Linked DNA regions of Homo sapiens: region 2 is linked to region 1. Evidence: fine-mapped QTL for protein levels in blood plasma. A gene starts in region 1. The other region holds a variant in brackets. All regions are shown on one strand. Distances are from middle to middle.

Region 1 (10,488 bases):
CAGGAGGAAGATGTGCAAACTTCCAGGTTCATGGAGGAGTTTCTGAAGATGGGGTTTCTCAGTCTTAAACAGGCATCGGATTCACCTAGGAGTCTTGTTAAAATGCAAACACTAATTGTTATGCCTGGGGTGGGCGGCGGGTGGGCTGAGTGTCTGCATTTCTGTTAAGGTCCTAGAAGATGCTGATGCTGCTGGTCTGGGGACCACATTTTGAGTAGCAAAGTCTTAGGAGACAGTAAAAATTAGAACCTGCAGTCTTTGAGCTTCCTGCCTATTGTGAGAATTACATACCTGTGCCAGTGAGGTTTGGTTTTAGCTGCATGAAAGAGAAAATCAAAATGACTTTGGATTTAAGCAAGTGAGGGAGACAGATTATAGGTCTCCCCAGTGAGAATCCCCAGGTGGGCAGTGCAGGGCTGGTGCAGGGACTCCTTGAGACCCAGGTTCTTTCCTTCTGCTCCACCATACTGGTCTGCTGGCATTCATCCTCATGGTTGCCAGAGAGCTGCTGTACCTCAGGCATCACAGCTAAATTCCAGGTGGGAAGCAGAGGGAAGAGGCAAAATCTCTAAGGCTATCTTTCTTATGATGTGCTCCAGGGTGCCACACTTACCAACTTCTACCTCCTTCTCACTGGCCAGAGCTGGCTTGAGATTTGCATTTCTAACAAGTTCCCAGAAGATGCTGGTGCTGCTGGTCTGCGGACCACACTTGGAGGAGCAAAGTTGTAGGAGACAGTAAAAATTAGAATCATCTGTCATGGAGGTTCTAATTTTTAGTAGCCCCCCTCGGACCTACTCAATCATAATTTGCATTTTAACAAGATTCCTAGGTGAATCCAATGCCTATTTAAGACTGAGGAAACCCATCTTGAGCAACTCTTCCACATACCGGGAAGTTTGACACCTTCCTCCTGTTCCAGTTCCTAGGTTGCAGGACACCCTTTCTCCAGGAGGCCCCAGTTTGTCTCATCCATGCACCCACATTGCTCTGCATCCCTCTGTTTAGCCTCCTACTGGAAGGGTCCTATGAACCCCCACTTTTTCCATTTATTTTTATTTATTTAATTTTTGTTTTAGAAGGAGTCTTGCTCTGTTGCCCAGGCTGGAGTGCAGTGGTGCGATCTCGGCTCATTGCAACCTCTGTCTCCCAGGTTCAAGTGATTCTCCTGCCTCAGCCTCCCGAGTAGCCGGAATTACAGGCACCTGCCACCACACCTGGATAATTTTTGTATTTTTAGTAGAGACGGGGTTTTGCCATGTTGCCCAGGCTGGTCTTGAACTCCTGACCTTGGGTGATCCACCTGCCTCAGCCTCCCAAAGTGCTGGGATTACAGGTGTGAGCCACTGCGCCTGGCAGAACCCCTACTTTTCAGAAGAGGAGACAAGTCACAGAGTGGTTCCTCAGGTGCCCTAAGTACAGAGTATTGAGACAATCAAATGAAAAAGATGAGTCTTGAGACGGTGATTTGCTCAGCAATCACATGACTACTGCACACCTACCATGTGGCAGGCACTAGAGATACAAATACAAAAAAGATACAGATTCTGTCTTCAAGAAGCTTCTAGAACTCCGGACATGCAAACATGCAAAACAAGAAGAGTGGTGCTCTGACAGCCATGATGTACAGGGAGACTGGGGAGAGACCAGGCAGATGAAGCCCATTAGCCAAACCTGAGATGTGTGCTGGGAAGACGGCCCAGCTTGTGGGGGCAGCGTGAGCTCTGCACAGAGGCTGGAGGCTATGAATTCCCCCACACTGGGACCCCACTGGCATGCACCTGTCAGGCTGCAAAGGAGGTTTTTTTTGTCTGCATGCAATCTGATTGGTTGGTGCCATGCCATATTGGGCTTTCTATATACACATATATATTATGTTATAAAATATATATAATATAAAATACATATATATTTTATATTAAACAATCTTTATTTGGAAAATAGTACCTTACAGTCCTAATGCTATCTATCAAACATCAATGACAGCAATTTCAGCAGGAACTAATGAACAGTAGCTAAACTAACAGGGGATCCATCAAAAGTGCTTTAAAGGGAGGAGCACCGGCTGACGTTGTGCCGAGTCTCTGGGCATTCAGGACTTGGTTATGGGAAAACAGAATCAAACTGGCAGGTGCTCTGGACCCAAACCCTGGCATTGTGACCCGCCTCCCTCCTGGGAGCCCTGAAGGCTCACAGTCCCCCTGGCACTTCCAGGCCCCTGTGGGCTGTGGGTGGAGCCCTAGGGGCCAAAGTGCCACTCAGGAAAGCCTGAAACGGCCTTGGAGTCAGCCAGCTTCTGCCTGTTGTGGCCATTTTCTTTCTGGAGCACCTGCAGCGCTCTCTCAGTGGGCTCAGTGGCCATCCAGCCTTCCTGGGACATTTTCTCATAGAAAAGGATCTCTCTCTCTCTGAAAACTGAAAGTGTCTTTCTTCAATTCCTGGGCCACGTCTCAGGCCATCTTCTTGTAGCGGTCACGGGTCTGACATGCGTGGCTCACGTTTTTGTGCACCTTGTACAGTCTCTGGTGGAGGTCCAGGAAGAGAGCCTGGTAAATGAATGGACAATCAGATGTTGCTGGCTGCAAGGGCTCTCCAGGTTTCTCTCCCCAGGGACTGGCCTTCAGCAAAGCCAGGTCTACTGCAAAGCCAGCAGGATTTGGAGTCCAAAGATCTGTGCTTCCTGACCTGCGACTGGCCTCCACCACAGTGCTTTGGTGGCTGGACTGCTAGTCAGGGTCCCACTACCCTGAGCTTCTGTATCTTCTTCTGTCAAATGAAAGTAATGAACTTCTCAGCCAGCTCAGAAGCTTTTGGTGAGGCCCAAATGCCATAATGCATGCAGAGAGCAAATCGGAAAAGACTGCAGCAAGGCATCTTCCTATGCGACAGGGGATTCTGCCTTCGCCCAGGTGAGTAATGCCCCTTAAATGGCAGATGGCAGATGTGTTATTCAGGCTGAGAGAGACTGTGGGGAGGAGGCTTGCCTGGATGGAGACTTGGAGGCGAGGCTTCCCCAGCTGAGGTTACCAGTTCTTGGGAGCAGGGAAGGCTTTCCTGCCAGGCAGGAGTGTGATGATGGGCACTCCCCCGTTCCTCTCGCTAGCACCTCATTTATATCCGGCTTGCTCCAGGCTCAATCCCCCAATGAAGGCTATGCACCGTCTGGCTCCACTGCCTTGAAGGGTTAGGTAAATAAGCACATGGCTCCTCGGGGAATGTGTCCCGGCGCTGGGCCGCTGCCCTCCCCGCAGCCATCCCGGCAGATTTATGGGCTTCAGGTCACTGAAGCATGTGCCACTTCACTTTCACTTGCCTGGGATTCCCAGAGGGGCAGGGGCTTCCTAAAGACCTGTGTCTGGTGCTCTGTGATGTCCCAGCCAAGCCTTGAGCCCCGTCGCCAGGATCCGACTCCAGGTGTCACACTGTGGAGCCCCCTTCTACCTTCTCTTGCTCCCCAGTCCCCACCCCCACTTGGCATACAAGGCTCCCAGAAACTCTAGCCTCCCAGATGCCAGCTCCTGTTTTTATACAGCATTGTGTGAGGATTTGTGGGAATGGGCCACTGCATTGACCAACCCACCCTCCATGGAGCCACCTGCTCGGTGCAAGCCCTGGGGAGAGAGGAGTGAATCGGATGTGGCATCTGTCCACAGGGTCAGCTCTGGGATGGGAAGAGATCCAATAAAGAAGTCCCACACTATGTTTGCTGTCCTTGTATAAGGCACTGATGATCAGTTCCCTTAGGATTCAGATCTAGAAAAGATTTTCCTTTTTCAAAGACAAAGAGAACGATGGGAGCTATTCATGCTGGCGTATTACCTTTGTTCTCAGAAAACATCGCACAAAATCAATGTGCAAGGGTAGCACCCCTAAGAACCTGGGTATTTCACATGTCTGTCTCCCCTTTATTTGTTTGTTGGGGTGGGCGTAATTATTGAGCACTCAGTATATGCATGGCATTGTACTAGATGCTGGAGATGTGGAATGGGTAAGACAAAATAAGACAAGGTCCTGGCCTCTAAGAGCTCACTGCACTGTACGATGTACATGGAAGGGACCAGTTATAAATGTACACGGAGTGTCTGCAGGCACAGAGTGGGTGAATCTGACTAGGGATGGAGGAGGTCAGGCCTGGCTTCCTGGAGGAGACAACATTGTTAGGATAAGTGGGTGGATTTGCCAGATAAAATATATGATGCCCAGTAAACTGAATTTCAGTTCAACAATGAATAATTTATAGTATATGTATGTCTCAGGTAATATTTGAGACACACTTAATAAGTTTTTTCTTGTTGATCTGGAATTCAAATTTTACTGGATGTTCTATTTTTTAATATTTAAATTTAATTTTTATTTTTAAAGACAGGGTGCCATTCTGTCACCCAAGCTGGAGTGCAGTGGTATGATCATAGCTCACTGCAGCCTCCAACTCCTGGGCTCAAGCGATCCTCCTGCCTCAGCCTCCTAAGTAGCTGGGACTACCGGCACGTACCACTGTGCCTGTAGCTAATTCTTAATCAGCTAATTCTTAAAATTCTTAAAATTGTGCCTAATCAGATAATTCTTAAAAATTATTATTATGTGTAGAAACAGGGTCTTGCTATGTTGCCCGGGCTGGTCTCAAACTCCTGGCCTCAAGCAATCCTCCTGCCTTACTTTCCCTAAGTGCTGGGATTACAGGTATGAGCCACTGTGCCTGGCCATGGGTGTCCTGTATTTTTATTTGTAAATCTGGAAACCCTATGAGTAGTAGTTTGTACAAAAGTAGTGAAAGGCATTACAGATAGAGAAAACAGCATGTGCACACAGCATGAGCCCAGGATGAGAGGCAAGCGAGAAGCCATTGGGTGGGAAAGTGCAAGTACTTCTGGAGACTGGAAACTAGGCTGGTGGGGGGTGCTGGGGAGGTGAAGCTGGAGAGGTCATGGGGGTCAGGGCTGAGTCTTGATACTATCCTGGAGGTTGGGCTTTTTCCTGTGGACAAAGAGTGTGTGAGAATTTTAATCAGAGAAATAGTCCATTTGATATTTTTATTTCTATTTAAAAAGTCATCTTAAAATATGCCTTTTATTTTTAGTTCTCTTCTTTCTAAGAGGTGGTATACAAGTCTTCATTTATTTATATAAAAATTATATTTATAGGCATGAATATATTTATAATATAAATTATAAATTAATTAATGTAGTAATAAATGAACAAAAATTGTCAAGCCCAGTTTGACAGAACCTCGCCTGGAGAGTGGGCAGGTGTGACTGTCTGAGTGGAGGGGCGGGGACGGTGACCTTGGCCTCCCAGTTTGGGGCTCCGCTGAGGGTGTCTTCCTGGCTGCTTACGATAGGAACTGATCCTAGGATGGCCTAGTAAGAAATTACAGGGAGCAGAGTTTCCCTTCAAGGAAGGAAGAACATTCTAGTGGATTGTCTGAACTTGGTGACTATATCCCAAACAAATAAAAGGGATGCTCCGTTAGCTTCTGTCAAGAATGGTGCAGAGGACTGGGTGCGGTGGCTCACCCCTGTAATCCCAACACTCTGGGAGGCTGAGACAGGAGGATTGCTTGGGGCTAGGAGTTCAAAACCAGCCTGGATAACATAGCAAAATCCCATTGCTCAAAAAAAAAAAAAAAAAAAAAAAAAAAAAAAAGCTAGGTGTGGTGGCCTGCATCTGGAGTCCCAGCTACTTGGGAGGCTGAGGTGGCAGGATTGCCTGAGCCCAGGAGGTCAAGGCTGCAGTGAGCCAAGGTCCTGCCACTGCGCTCCAGCCTGGGGAACAGAGTGAGACTCTGTATCAAAAAAAAAAAAAAAAAAAAGATGAAGAGGTAGGGGTGCTTACTCTAAGAAGAGATGAAGAGATGGGGCTGGAATTTGCCTTCAACTCCAAATTTTTAAGATGCTTCCCAGACATTCCCAGACTTCAGTTAGCAGGTCAGGCCAGTTCTTTAAAGAGTTAGAAAGGATCAGGATTACACATCTACAGAGGCAGAATGCAGAAGAAGCTTGTCCAAGTAAGAGCATGACCAGGTTTCAAGGCATCTGACAACGAATACCACTTTGGCCCCTTCAGACTTGCCTGGAAGTCTAAGGATGTGCCTCGAGTGACCCTACATGCTGAGAATTCACACTTCTGAGCTAGCAGGGCAGCCGGGCAGGCATTAATAGCTCTGTTTCACAGATGAGAACACTAAGACCAGAGAGAGGAAGTGCGATTCCCATGAGTCGCCCAGCCAGTTAGGAGCAGAGCTGAGGCTGTAGCCTGTGTCCACTGACTGTGGGCCAGCATGCTTTCCTTGGCATTGCCCCTGACCCACAGATACCCAGCTTCAGGCGGGAGCTCCCTCCCTAGTGCTGCTGGCTGAGGGAGAGCGAGCTGAATGTATCTTTGGAGAGGATGGCAGACATCACTGATGATATGATAGTGGAACACAATGGGAGCTGTGGCTGGGAAGGCTCCCCTCCCAGTTTTTCCAGGAGAAGCCAGGAAAAAGCTCTGCGTGTGGGAAGAGGCCACCTGGGAGGCACCTGGGGGGGCCCTCTGTGACCCTCTGTGGAGGCTGAAGAACTGAGAATGCCTCCTGAAGCTGGTGTTTTGAAGCAACAGAGGACGAACTTTCAGGCTTCATGCATGGGCATCTAGCAGTGTGGGAAAAGCAGAACTTCTGGGAAATGAGAAACATAAGTTAAAGCTGCATTTTGCCTCTGTTTATTTAAGCCATTCAAAAAGGAGGGAGGATATGTCTCCTGGCCCACAGTTCTCATACTCAGGAACCCTCATATCTGGGAGCTCTGTCATGTCAGTTGCATGTTTAAAGGGCCTTTGTTCTAGAACCTTCTGCTGTACACACAGGAGTGCGTGCACACACAAACACACACACACTTGCCATTAGGAAAAGGGGGACTGGATTTTGAAGTGCAAAGAGTTGACAATAAGTAAAAGGACAAAAGTACTGTATGTACCTCTGCAATACAAAGTCTTCAGGCTGTTCTGCCTGGTGCTGTTATGCAGCATGTGAATTTCCCGAGAGGACGGGGGGCGGGTGGTCCCTCTCCCACATCCCAGGAATGGATTAAAGTCTCTCGGTGGGACTGAGGTCTTAGGGTCCTTCCTTTCCAGCTGGGTCTGGGAGGAGTCAGGAGTGCACTGGATTTAGGATTTGGGGTCTTCTCCCATCACTCCCTGTTCCACGGAGAGACAACTGTGTTCCCAGCAGGGGTCAGTAAAGCAGTAGGACCACTAGGGGTGAGTGGGGGAGGTGGTGACTGGAGGTGATCAAAGTCTACTCGGAGTGACCAGACATAGGCGAGGTCTTCCCCTGAATGGATTTGTGAGATTTACTCCTGACTTGGGACTTCCAGGGCAGTCACCTGGACGAATTTCCAGCATTTAACCGTGGACAGACACAAGTCCTCCTGCCATTCGGGAAAACTGAAAACGTGAGTGAGCGGTCAGCTAAGCCTGGGTTCAGAGGTGAGAGGATGTTATCTGCAAACATCCATCTTTGCAGTGAGCAAACAGACGCATTTGGCTTGAGGTGGAGGGCCTGGCCCTAGGAGACAAAAAGACCCCCTACCAAACAGCATTTTTCTCTAAATGCCCCTTGAATTGAGACACAGTTGCCGGGTCTCCTGCGGTCTTATTCTCTGTGAGGAATGTCTTCCTCAGCTCCACAGGCCGGCCTCACCAATTGTCTTGGGATTAACCCTTGGCCATCCCGATCTTGCTCTCTCTTCTCTGTGTTTTCCTTCCAGCCTCCATGTCACCTTTTGAGTGTCAAGGCATCTTCCATTGGCCACGAAATGACAGAGAAGTCATCCATCTGCAGAAGCCTCCTGTGTGCACCGTGGAATCACCGTGTCTGTACGGGCACGAATGCTTTAAGAAAACAGCCCTGCTTCTTCACAAACTCTAGTCATTTCACTTGGAATCTGTCCATCAAGAAATTAGGTTTGCAGAGTCCAAAGCAAGCTCCCTAGAGCTTTACAAACAAGCTGGCGGGCAAGGCAGCGCGCCCTATAGTGTCTCTGTGGAGCGCTAAGATCTGTGACCCCTTTGCCACATGGGGTGTGCGCTCAGACTGGGCTATGAATATATCAGCCTCTCTCCACCCGCACTTAGGGACAGAAGATATGGAGACTCCAGGAACTTCATGAACTATTTGCTGTGGTCTTCTGTCCCGGGATAGTCCGGGTCTCACTCCCAGCTCTCCAGAGCTTAACCCTCCCTCTCAGGGGAATGTTTGAAACCTACGAAGAATTCTCAGGAATTCGAGGTAGAAGGTGGCAGAGAGACTTCTGTTCCTGGGGGCCGAGCTGTTGTGCTGATACCGTCCTCTTGGCGTCTGCCCTAGTGGGGACCCTTGATTTTAACTTGAAGTTCCTGGACTGGGTCTAACCTTAGCATGTGTGCCTGAGTGATGGACTTGGTATTTACACCAGCCACGCTGATAAGTGCACATGTGTTTTTAATGTTTTGGCTTTCCACACCACAAACACACAGATGTGCTGTCGCCCGGGCTAGGACTTGAGTAGGGTTTTTCTATTTAAATATATATTATATATTTAAAAAAGTGTCCTCCCAGAGCTAATACCGTTGCTAGCAGCTCTTCCTGCCGCCACACCGGGCAAAGTCCACCCACTGCCCCAGTGTTGAGGGCCACCATGGGCGGCCCCACCTGGAGAGGTGCTGCTCACAGCAAACAGCTCCAACTGCGCCTTCGCCTCGCCTTCCAGGGAGCCCAGCCAGGCCCACTGGGTATTTACAAGCAGACCTCCCTCGCTTCAGCCTTCCTGAACCCCTGTTAGTTGGGAAACCACCTGTCTGCACCGCAGCTAGAGAACCGAGGAGAGGAGCCGCTAGTCTAAAGGGCTGTTGGTTGAAATTAGGAAGCAGTGTAAAGAAAAAGAAAAAAAAAGTTTGGGAGGCCAAGGCAGGAGCATCACCTGAGGTCAGGAGTTCGAGACCAGCCTGGCTAACATGGTGAAACCCCGTCTCTACTAAAAATACAAAAAATTAGCGGGGGCATGGTGGCACGCGGCTGTAATCCCAGCTACTCGGGAGGCTGAGGCAGGAGAATCGCTTGAACCCGGGAGGCGGAGGTTGCAGTCAGCGGAGATAGCGCCATTGCACTCCAGCTTAGGCAACAAGAGCGAAACTGTCTCAAAAAAAAAAAGTCTTCATAATTTCATGGGTTTGCAAGTATGATCCAGGCTCCCCGCTTCTCTGCAAGCCAATGCGAGTTAATTACAGCGTCCGCCCTGGTCTCTCTCCACCCCACGCCGTGATCCATTCCCCTTCTTTTTCTCCCCTTGTCTCTTTCCTCCTCCCCCTTTTATTTATGTATTTTTGGTTTTGTTTTTTAAGGGGTGTTGAGCCGCGTCTGGTTCTAGTAAACCGAACCCGCTCGCGAGGGAGGCGATTGGCTCCCGCGCCGGTGACGGACGTGGTAACGAGTGCGGCTCGCCCCGCCGGGAGCTGATTGGCTGCGCGGGGCGGCTCCGAGGGCTCGGCCGTAGGAGCCCCGCGCACTCCAGCCCTGCAGCCTCCGGAGTCAGTGCCGCGCGCCCGCCGCCCCGCGCCTTCCTGCTCGCCGCACCTCCGGGAGCCGGGGCGCACCCAGCCCGCAGCGCCGCCTCCCCGCCCGCGCCGCCTCCGACCGCAGGCCGAGGGCCGCCACTGGCCGGGGGGACCGGGCAGCAGCTTGCGGCCGCGGAGCCGGGCAACGCTGGGGACTGCGCCTTTTGTCCCCGGAGGTCCCTGGAAGTTTGCGGCAGGACGCGCGCGGGGAGGCGGCGGAGGCAGCCCCGACGTCGCGGAGAACAGGGCGCAGAGCCGGCATGGGCATCGGGCGCAGCGAGGGGGGCCGCCGCGGGGCAGCCCTGGGCGTGCTGCTGGCGCTGGGCGCGGCGCTTCTGGCCGTGGGCTCGGCCAGCGAGTACGACTACGTGAGCTTCCAGTCGGACATCGGCCCGTACCAGAGCGGGCGCTTCTACACCAAGCCACCTCAGTGCGTGGACATCCCCGCGGACCTGCGGCTGTGCCACAACGTGGGCTACAAGAAGATGGTGCTGCCCAACCTGCTGGAGCACGAGACCATGGCGGAGGTGAAGCAGCAGGCCAGCAGCTGGGTGCCCCTGCTCAACAAGAACTGCCACGCCGGCACCCAGGTCTTCCTCTGCTCGCTCTTCGCGCCCGTCTGCCTGGACCGGCCCATCTACCCGTGTCGCTGGCTCTGCGAGGCCGTGCGCGACTCGTGCGAGCCGGTCATGCAGTTCTTCGGCTTCTACTGGCCCGAGATGCTTAAGTGTGACAAGTTCCCCGAGGGGGACGTCTGCATCGCCATGACGCCGCCCAATGCCACCGAAGCCTCCAAGCCCCAAGGTAAGGCTGCCTCCTCCCACGTGCGCGAGCCGCCCCCTCCATCCCCCGGCCGGAGCTGCAGGAGAACCCGCGCCACCCTACGCCCGCCCGCCGCTGGGTCCCGGTGCTGGGGAC
Region 2 (10,488 bases), 220 kb after region 1:
TCACTGATTCTGTTTTTGCTCTCTAGCAGATGACAGATTTCTAGCAGTGACTGTAATCCACTGATAGACATCAACATACATGACCTGAAAAACGATGTTTTTCCTGATTAATGGAATAACTTATATGAAAAGTCCCACCAAGATATATAATTGAAAGATAGCTATATTACAGAAAAGGGGCCCCGATCCAGACCCCAAGAGAGGCTTCTTGGATTTCACATAAGAAAGAATTCAGGGCAAGTCCATAGAGTAAAGTGAAAACAAATTTATTAGGAAAGTAAAGGAATAAAGAATGGCTACTCCATAGACAGACAGCCTGGAGAGCTGCTGGTTGCCCATTTTTATGGTTATTTCTTGATTATATACTAAACGAGGAGTGGATTATTTATGCCTTCCCCTTTTGGACCACATAGGGTAACTTCCTGACATTGCCATGGCATTTGTACACTGTCATGGCGCTGGTGGGAGTGTAGCAGTGAGGACAGTTAGAGGTCACTCTCGTGGCCATCTTGGTTTTGGTGGGTTTTGGCTGGCTTCTTTATTGCAGCCTGCTTCATCAGCAAGGTCTTTACAACCTGTATCTTGTGCCAACCTCCTGTCTCATCCTGTGACTTAGAATGCCTTAACTGTCTGGGAATGCAGCCCAGTAGGTCTCAGCCTCAATTTACCCAGCTCCTATTCAAGATGGAGTTGCTCTGATTCACATACGTCTGACAGCTATAATGTGTCTTCTTGAAAAAAAGTAAAAATGTAAGTCAAAAATACAAAATATAAATAGTTCTTAATTTCATGCTTGGATATGTGAAATCAGAACTGGCTCATAGATTCATTGCAGATAGAAGATATTGTATAAATGGGTTCAGTACACACATGCAACAAAAGGAGTTTCTTATAAGAGCCAAAGGCCTGTCTCTTGACTCTGGTAGGCCTCCCACCCCCGCCAAGGAACACAGCCCTCCTGGCGTGGGTCACACTGACCGATGTCCCGGTACCCCCTGTCTCCCACTTCCCAGAACGATTGCTGATAAAACTCACTGGGATGTTTCTCACTGGACTGAGCCCTGATAGGATTGTACATTTTTCTTTTAATGTTACTAGAGAATGTGTGGAATGGATCAAAATTGCTTTCAGGCTTATATTGGTGAAACTTCAATGGTTTCAACCCCTTCGTCTCTTCTTTCTTCTTTATTTCAACAGCAGCCATACTGGAAAGCCCTATGGGAGGACTAAATGAGTGCCTTATCTCTTACCCCTTTCTCCACTTCCATCCTACATATAAAGCCCCTATGTGTAGATAATGGCATCAAAGCATTGGACTGGATTGGACTGGACTGGATTGGATTGGATTGGAAAATTTTGACTGACTCAGATGATGTTCTCTTAACCTATCTGGCTGGCCACAAAATTAGAAACTCAGATGGGCCAAAGGTAATAGCTGTAGAAATAAGATTTTGCAAAATACAGTGTTTTAAATCTGAAATTGCTGTGTCCATTTGGAGACCAGTGGTCTCCTCTGGACTGTATGTAACCCCTTGAGCCAGGCCTTGTCTGTTTTCTTGTCATGGTATCTCCAGGGTTCGATTCAGGGCCAGGCACTTAGTAACCAGCAAATATTGAAGAGTGACATGTCAGTGCTTAACCAGGCTCTGTGGCAAGTGCCTTATGTGCTCCATGTCCTATAACCCTCCCACCAACTCAGTGACATGGGTATTGTTATTATTCTCTTTTTACAGACAGCACAGAGAGGAGAAGCAACTTGCCCAAAGTCACACAGCAGTAAGTTAGAGCCAGAATGCAAATACAGGTATGACTTAAATACTACGCAATATTGCCCCTTAGTGGTAGGCACTGAATCCCTACTTGTTGAATGAATGAATGAGCGAACTGCGAACATATTTTAAGAGAGCTGAGATGGAGGAGGGATGGAAGGGATTTGCAAGAAAGCTGTCACGTTGGTGCAAAAGTAATTGCAGTTTTTTGTCATTAAAAGTAATGGCAATTACTTTTGCACCAACCTAATAAAACTATTTTCCACACATCTCAGCTTCCCAACTCAGTGCTGTGTGACTATGGGGGACCTCTTAGTATCTGTGGGCTCACATTCCTCTTGTTGAGAAACAGATTTGCTGAGTACTTTTTGCCAGAGGGAGTTTGGTCAACAGGAGCTAGAGAAGGGACCCAGATTCTCTAATGTTTCAACAAAGATTTAAGATACATTGGTTTAATTTAGGATTATTAAAAAATGTGTTTCTAGGCCCTGAGAAGTGGCTCACAACTGTAATCCCAGCATGTTGGGAGGCTGAGGCAGGAGAATTGCTTAAAGCCAGGAGTTTGAGACCAGCCTGGGCAATACAGTGAGACTTCATCTCTACAAAAATAAAAGTAATAAAAGTTAACTGAGTATGGTGCTCCACACCTGTAGTTCCAGTTACTCTGGAGGATGAGGCAGGAGGATTGCTTGAGCCCAGGAGTTTGAGGCTGCAGTAAGTTGTGATCACACCACTTTACTCCAGCCTTGAGCTTGTGTGATAGAATGAGACTCTGCCTCTCATTAAAAACAAAAACAAAAACAAAAACAAAAACAACAACAACAAAAAAACCTTTCCTTTTCGTTGGGGAAAGGAGGCTGGAAGGCCCAGAATAACATCTAGAGATCTTATGTTGTAGGCCACGTGCAATGGCTCACGTCTGTAATCCCAGCACTTTGGGAGGCTGAGGAGGGTGGATCACCTGAGATCAGGAGTTCGAGACCAGCCTGGCCAACATGGCGAAACCCCGTCTCTACTAAAAATACAAAAATTAACTGGGTGTGTGGTGGGCACCTGTAATCCCAGCTACTCGGGGCTGAAGCAGGAGAATCACTTGAACCTGGGAGGCAGAGGTTGCAGTGAGCCGAGATTGCACCACTGCACTCCAGCCTGGGCGACGGAGCAAGACTCCATCTCAAAAGCAAACAAGCAAACAACAAACAAACAAAAAAGCTTTCCTTTTGGTTGGGGAAAGGAGGCTGGAACACCCAGAATAACATCTAGAGATTTTATGTTGTAATATTAAGGTCTTACAAAGGATCTGTTATGGGTTGAAGTGTGTCCTCTGAAAGGTATGTTGAAGTTCTAACCATGGTACATGTGAATGGGACCTTATGTGGAAACAGGGTATTTGCAGATGTCATCATGTTAAGATGAAGTCATTAGGGTGGCCCTGATCCAATAAGACTGGTGTCCTTATAAGAAGTGGGTGAAAGAGACACACAGAGAAAACTGCTCTCCTGCCCGCAGCAGACAGAAGCAGAGGTGGGCTTATGCTGCTGCAAGCCAAGGAATGCCAGGGGCTATCAGAAGCTGGGAAAGGCAAGGAAGAGATTTTGGAGAGAACGTGGTCCTGCCAACACCTTGATTTTGGACTTCTAGCCTCCAGAACTATGAGAGAATAAATTTCTGCTGTTGTAAGCCATCCAGCCTGTGGTACATCATTGTGGCAGTCTTAGGAAACAAACACAGGTCCTAGTATGATTTTCCATTTCTGCATCATCACAATTCCTGATGATGATTTCACCTCTGCTCCCTGTGATTCTCCCCTGACTTGCTCCAAAGGATACATGCAAAGGTCAGAAGAAATGTCTTACCTGTTCACACCATCTTGAACCAGTCAGTTTTGGCAATTTAGTTTGGAATCCTTGAAGGGGCTTTTCTGGGTTCTAATACTGGCTTTAGTTCTGGCTGGCTGTGTGAGTTTGTATGTTAAAAATTAGAAAAGGAGGCCAGGTGCAGTGGCTCACATCTGTAATCCCAACACTTTGGGAGGCTAAAGTGGGAGGACTGCTTGAGCCCAGGAGTTTGAGACCCGCCTGGACAACATGATGAGAGCCCCAGCTCTAGAAAAAAATGTAAGGATATTAGCTGGGCGTGGTGACTCATGCCTGTAGTCCTAGCTTCTCCGAGGGCTCAGGGGGGTGATCGCTTGAGTCTGGGAGGTTGAGGCTGCAGTAAGCTGTGATTGTGCATCTGCACTCCAGCCTGAATGACAGAGAAAGACCTTGTCTCAAAAGGAAAAAAAAATTGAAAAATAAAAATGCTGGCCGGGCGCGGTGGCTCACGTCTGTAACCCCAGTACTTTGGGAGGCCAAGGCGGGTGGATCACAAGGTCAAGAGATTGAGACTATCCTGGTCAACATGACAAAACTCCGTCTCTACTAAAAATATGAAAATTTGCTGGGTGTGGTGGCCCGTGCCTGTAGTCCCAGCTACTTGGGAGGCTGAGGCAGGAGAATCGCTTGAACCTGGGAGGTGGAGGTTGCAGTGAGCCAAGATGGCACCACTGCATTCCAGCCTGGGCAACAGAGACAGACTCTGTCTCAAAAAAAAAAAAAAAAAAAAAAAAAGGCTAATAGTCGCATACATGGAGTACCTCCTACATGTGGGCTTCACAAGGATTTGTTCTAATCCTCTCCAGCATCCTGTAAGTTAGTTAACATTAATTCAAACGTAAAAAAAAAAAAAAAGAGAGAAGAGAAAAAAAAACAAGGGAGAAGGAGGCAGACCTGAGTTAGGCCTGTCTGACTTTCTCTGAAGCCAGTGTCCATAGCATGTGGCATCTCTAGGGAACAGATAGAAGTGAAAGAACAGAACAGGCATGGCTCAGGGGAGGAAATGTTTTGGTAATGCTGCAGTGATGAGCTGGGTCCAGCTTGCCCTGGGTCTCAAGACCCAGTTGTTAAATTTTCAGGATTTTTGCAGACAGGCTGATGTCATGTTGATAGCTTGAAATTGGCCACGGTGGGAGGATTTATACCACCAAAACAGGCAGACGCTACAAATCAGAGCTCCCACCTCTCTCACCACGTGGTTTACTGGAACTCCACTGGAACTGGAGAGAGAGAAGGGAAGCGGAGAAAAGATACCCCCAGGGCCTGGAGTCTGAGATTGGCTCAGAAGGGCCG[T/A]TGTGGTCTAGGCAGGATTCTGAAGTATTCCGGGAATGAATCCTATATAACCAAAGTTACCCGATTCCACGGGTTTAGGAAGGGCCAACCCCTCCCTGGGGAGTTGAGAGCACTCGCTGAGACCTTCTCAGTGAGTGGAGAAATAAAGTCACCAAAGCTGCACCCCTGCCCTGCCAAACTACAGCTATATGGCAGGGCAAAGAGAGCCAATGTCTGCAAGCTAGTTAAATAAACACTCTCGGCCCCAGTTCTTAATCTGTAAAATACAGGGATAATGGATCAGTGTGTCCCAAACCTGCTCCATCGTAGAGATGTGCTGTGTGTGTAAAATACACACTGGATTTCAATGTCTAAATATGAAAAAAAGATTCAAAATATCTCATTGACAATTCCTTGATTCTATGTTAAAATAATCACATTTTAAATATTGAGTTAAATAAAATATATTATGGAAATAAATTCCTCCTACCTTTTTTTATCTTTTTATTTTTATTTTTTTATTTTTTAGACTGAGTTTCGCTCTGTCGCCCAGGCTGGAGTGTAGTGGCGCGATCTCGGCTCACTGCAAGCTCTGCCTCCCGGGTTCACGCCATTCTCCTGCCTCAGCCTCCCAAGTAGCTGGGACTACAGACGCCCGCCACCACGCCTGGCTAATTTTTTTTGTATTTTTAGTAGAGACGGGGTTTCACCGTGTTAGCCAGGATGGTCTCGATCTCCCGACCTCGTGATCCGCTCGCCTCGGCCTCCCAAAGTGCTGCGATTATAGGCATGAGCCACCGCGCCCGGCCTTTTTACCTTTTAAAATGTGGCTAGTAGAAAATATAATATTGCACACATGGTTGGAGCTTTATGTCGTTTGACAGCTCTGCTCTGGAGAAGTGGTCCCTGAAGCCCCCTGTGCTGGGGGGCTCCCATCCTCCGCAGGCCTGGGTTATTCAGCTGCATTTTGCTTCCTGGAGTCACCCCACTTCTCTTTTCAGTTGATCCCAACCAGAATAGTTTGAATTGTTCGTAATCAAAGACACTTTAACGAACAGATTAACCGAACCGGAGCCTCCTCCGGTGGTTGCACAGATTGGTCCACAGAACACTTGCAGCGCTCACAGCGCGTCACGCTCCAGCGTGATCTGCCATGAACCACTCAGGATAGCATCATTTCTGCTTCCCCAGACCCTGCCGCTGCCTCTGTCCCTCAAGACATCTCTAGCTCTGGCCACCAGCACTGGATTTAAATCAAGGCGTCTGCTGGTCAGCGAGGCAAGTGAGCTCCTCAAGGTTCCGGTTCACGCTGAGGCTGTTCTTAGGAGCTGGGTTACATTATCAGAGTCTGGAATTTAGAGTAACGGCAGCTTTCTTGACTCTCCCTGAACCTAGAGGAAGGCAAGGTTTGAAGCAAAAGCAATTCCAAGAAGCAGGCATGATGTTTCTCCCTTCCCCCAGTTTCCCTTCCCTTTCCCATGGGGTAGGTCTGCCCGGGCTCAGACACCATGATCATTGTGCTCTGTGCACCCAGCCTGGGAACTCGGGCTTTGGAAATATGAATTTCCTAAGACGTTTCAGTTGTTCCAAGGTGTGAGGTGAAACTCTCACAAAAACCTGTCAAAGACTGGCTTTGGAGTTGAATTCTCAAGGTTAACTTGCTGGGGTGTACAAGAATTGTATGCCAGATTCCGAGTAATTATTCCTGCAGGAACTGCCCGCTCCAAGCACTTTAATGAAAAATGATAGAAAGGGTTATTGACCTTTGAGACATTCAATCCACCGTGCAGCTAAGCATCTGCAGAGGATCAGGCCAGGGAAGATTACATCTGCCCCACTGCAGAGACATTGCAACAGTTCATCTTCAAAACAGGCAAGGAAAATGTGTCTAATGAATCCCTAAAGCACAGTATGTGCAGATGGGTTTGAAATGGTCTTTGGCAATTTTTCACCTTCATTGTAATGGGAATCCCTTGGAAACAAGCTAGAGATCATATGTAAATTTGACTGGCTACACTTTACAACATTCTTGGGAGGACTAGGAGTAAGATGATAAATGAAGACGTTGCGAAGTTCATAATTTGGGAGAGAAACTCATTAAAATGTTAAAAATGAGCTACATATACCCTGTTCAGGGGAACTGCACGATGTAATAAAATGAAATAAGCCTCTAATATGCTCCATATTGCTCCGTGGTGAGCAGAAGGCAAGCCTGAGACACAGATCCTTCCCTCTGGATGCTTGCAGTTGAGTTGGTTGTTGAGACAAGGCTTAAATACACGACACTGCGTCTCAAAGTCTGACAGCCCCAGCTGGATGACAAAGAGCCATCTGATGGTTAAATGAGAGTGGAGGGAATGGGCGGCAAGAACAGAAACCAGTTTCCAGGGTGTTTCTGTTGCTTTCAATGTTTTTTTTTTTTTGAGACTGAGTCTTGATCTATCACCCAGGCTGGAGTTCAATGGCGTGATCTTGGCTCACTGCAACCTCTGCCTCCTGGGTTCAAGCGATTCTCCTGCCTCAGCCTCCCAAGTAGCTGGGATTACAAGCATGTGCCACCACGCCTGGCTAATTTTTGTATTTTTAGTAGAGACAGGGTTTCACCATGTTGGCCAGGCTGGTATCGAACTCCTGACTTCAAGTGATCCACCTGCCTCTACCTCCCAAATTGTTAGGATCACAGGCGTGAGCCACCATGCCTGGCTGTTGTCAATGTTTTAAAGGCAGTTAATATCTTCATCCCCAAACTTCACTCCTGTCCCATCGCTTTGCCTTATCCTCCCTTCACAGGGGTAATCACTACACTGAGATTGGAGTATTTTCTCTCAGGTCAGTTTTTATAGTTTTATTACATATGTTTAAATAAAGAGTTAAAGCAAATGTGACAAAATGTGAACACTTGATAAATCTGGACAGTGAGCATTTGGTTTTATGTTTTATCATCTTTTTTGTATTTATGTATCCTTGAAATTTTTTTCTTTTTTGAGATGGAGTCTCCCACTGTCGCCCGAGCTGGAGTGCAATGGCATGATCTTGGCTCACTGCAACCTCCACCTCTCAGGTTCAAGCGATTCTCCTGCCTTTGCCTCTTGAGTAGCTGGGATTACAGGCACCCGCCACCACGCCTGGCTAATTTTTTGTATTTTTAGTAGAGAAGTTGGTTGGCCAGGCTGGTCTCGAACTCCTGACGTCATGATCCACCTGCCTCAGCCTCCCAAAGTGCTGGGATTACAGGGGTTAGTCACTCTGCGTGGCTGGAATTTTTTTCAAATCTTAAAGATTATATGAGCTTCTATATAGTAGAAGCAGAAAAAAATTGTAAATAAATTTTATGGACAATGTGTAACAACAAAATTAAAAACCCAAAAGAAAGAAAGGAAGAAGAAGAAGGAATGGAAGAAACAAAGAAAGAGAAAGAACTTGAGATCTCTAAGAATTCATAGGTCACTTTGCATGGAGATAGTCAGCAAAGACTGCCAAGAGGAGGAAGTATGACCCAGGTCTTGAGAAATGGAGATGTGGGAGGAGGGCCTGAAAGGGAGGGGAGTCGCCATTTAGAGCAACTCTTATCTGTAACCTGAGGAGACGAGACTGTGAGCTCTAAAGTTCACATTCAAATCTCACAGCATATATCATGTTCATTGATTCAATCCACAAACAGTAGACAGTTACCACATGCAGTAAATAATGCTAGACACTGTAGGAGATTCCAGGATGAGAATATGGTAGGTGGTCTCCCTCCTGGAATCACCATTTTGATTTTCATCATCCTTAAACAGGAAGAATTTACTGTCACTTTTTCCCTGTCTGCCTGCTTGTCTGCCTGCCTTTCTATTGAGAGCCCTGTCTATTCCATTTCATTCTAAATTTCTTTCAGATGAGAGCTATTTCTCATATCTATCTGCATCCTCCACAGTGTCAAGATAGGATTATACAATTAAGTGGGTATTCATTAAATACTCATTGAATAATTGATTAACTTGATTGTTTAAGTAGTATTTGAGAGGCTATTATGTTCTAAAGCACACAAGGGAACACTCTGGAGATCAAAGATAAAATAAAAGGGATATATTAGTTAACTGATTGCATTAAAAGACACATATACATGTGTCTTTTACAATACAGATCCTGGCCGCTGTTAAATATAATTCAGGCTGGGTGTGGTGGCTCCTGCCTGTAACCCCAGCACTTTTGGAGGCTGAGGTGGGAGACGATAACAAGAGCCCAGGGATTCAAGATCAGCTTGGGCAACATAGCAAGACCTCATCTCTACAAAACATTAAAAAATTAGCTGAGAGTGGTGGCATGCACCTGTAGTTCCAGCTACTAGATAGGCAGAGGTGGGAAGACTTAAGATGCTTGAGCCGGGGAGGCAGAGATTTGCAGTGAGCTGAGATCACACCACTGTACTCCAGCGTGGGTGAAAGAGCAAGACCCTACCTCAAAAAAAAAATAAAAAAAAAATCAGTATTCTATTTATAGACAACCACACCTTGGATATTGTGGGTTCAGTTCCAGACCACCATAATAAAGAGAATAACACAATAAAGTGAGTCACATGAATTTTTTTGGTTTCCTAGTGCTTATAAAATTTATGTTCACATTACATTGCAGTCAATTAAGTGTGCAATAGCATTATGTCTAAAAAACACCGTATAATCCTAATTTAAAAATATTTTGTTGCTAAGAAATGCTAGTGATCATCTGAACCTTCAGCGAGCTGTAATCTTTTTGCTAGTGGAGGGTCTTGCCTTGATGTTGATGGCTGCTGACTGATCAGGATGGTGATAGCTGAAGTTTGGGGTGGCTGTGACAATTTCTTAAAATAAGACAGCAATGAAGTTTAGCACATTAATTGGCTCTTCCTTTCACAAAAGATTTCTCTGTAGCATTCGATGTTGTTTTATAGCATTTTACCACCAGAAAATTGGATTCAATTCTTTCAAACCCCGCTGCTGCATTATCAACTAAGTTTATGGAATATTCTAAAACCTTTGTTGTCATTTCAACAATGTTCACAGAATCTTTACTCCATGGAATCACCAGGAGTTGATTCCATCTCAATAAACCACTTTCTGGCCAGGCACAGTGAGCAGATCACCTGAAGTCCGGAGTTCAAGACCAGCCTGGCCAAAATGGCGAAACCCCATCTCTACTAAAAGTACAAAAATTAGCCGGGCGTGGTGGCGGGTGCCTGTAATTCTAGCTACTTAAGAGGCTAAGGCAGGAGAATTGCTTGAACCTGGGAGATGGAGGTTTCAGTGAGTCGAGATCGCGCCACTGCATTCCATCCTGGGTGACAGAGTGAGACTCCATCTCAAAAAAAAAAAAAAAAAAAGAAACCACTTTCTTTGCTCATCTATAAGAAGCAACCTCCTCATCTGTTAAAGCTCTATCATGAGAGTGCAGCAATTCAGTCACATCTTCAGACTCCACTTCTAATTCTAGTTCTCTTACTATTTCTACCACATCCACAATAACTTCTTCTACTGAAGTCTTACACCTCTTAAAGTCATCCATGAGGGTTGGAATCAACCTCTCCCAAACTCCAGTTAATGTTGATATTTTGT

Alleles and levels. Alleles are on the strand shown, and positions count from the first base shown. The strength of an association depends on the size of the effect and on how common the allele is.
With allele A in place of T in region 2, the plasma level of the protein whose gene starts at base 9,517 in region 1 is lower (moderate association).

What was found. PIP is the chance, under the fine-mapping model, that this variant and not a neighbour inherited with it causes the effect. Protein levels are from antibody-based Olink assays in UK Biobank. Linkage for the fine-mapping came from a reference panel and not from the study's own genotypes, which makes the PIPs less certain.
Region 2: its variant is fine-mapped to the plasma level of the SFRP1 protein (UK Biobank, PIP above 0.99).

Annotation. Positions count from the first base shown.
Region 1 is chr8:41,308,502-41,318,989 of GRCh38, reverse strand. SFRP1 (secreted frizzled related protein 1) reads left to right here and starts at 9,517. Exons shown (of 3, transcript NM_003012.5): 1 at 9,517-10,374. The coding sequence starts at 9,831. RefSeq lists enhancers at 7,350-7,877, 9,797-10,488.
Region 2 is chr8:41,088,439-41,098,926 of GRCh38, reverse strand. No RefSeq gene overlaps it. Among named protein-coding and RNA genes, the nearest start is that of MIR548AO, 180 kb to the left of the region's middle. The variant T/A (reference allele first, on the strand shown) is at 4,940.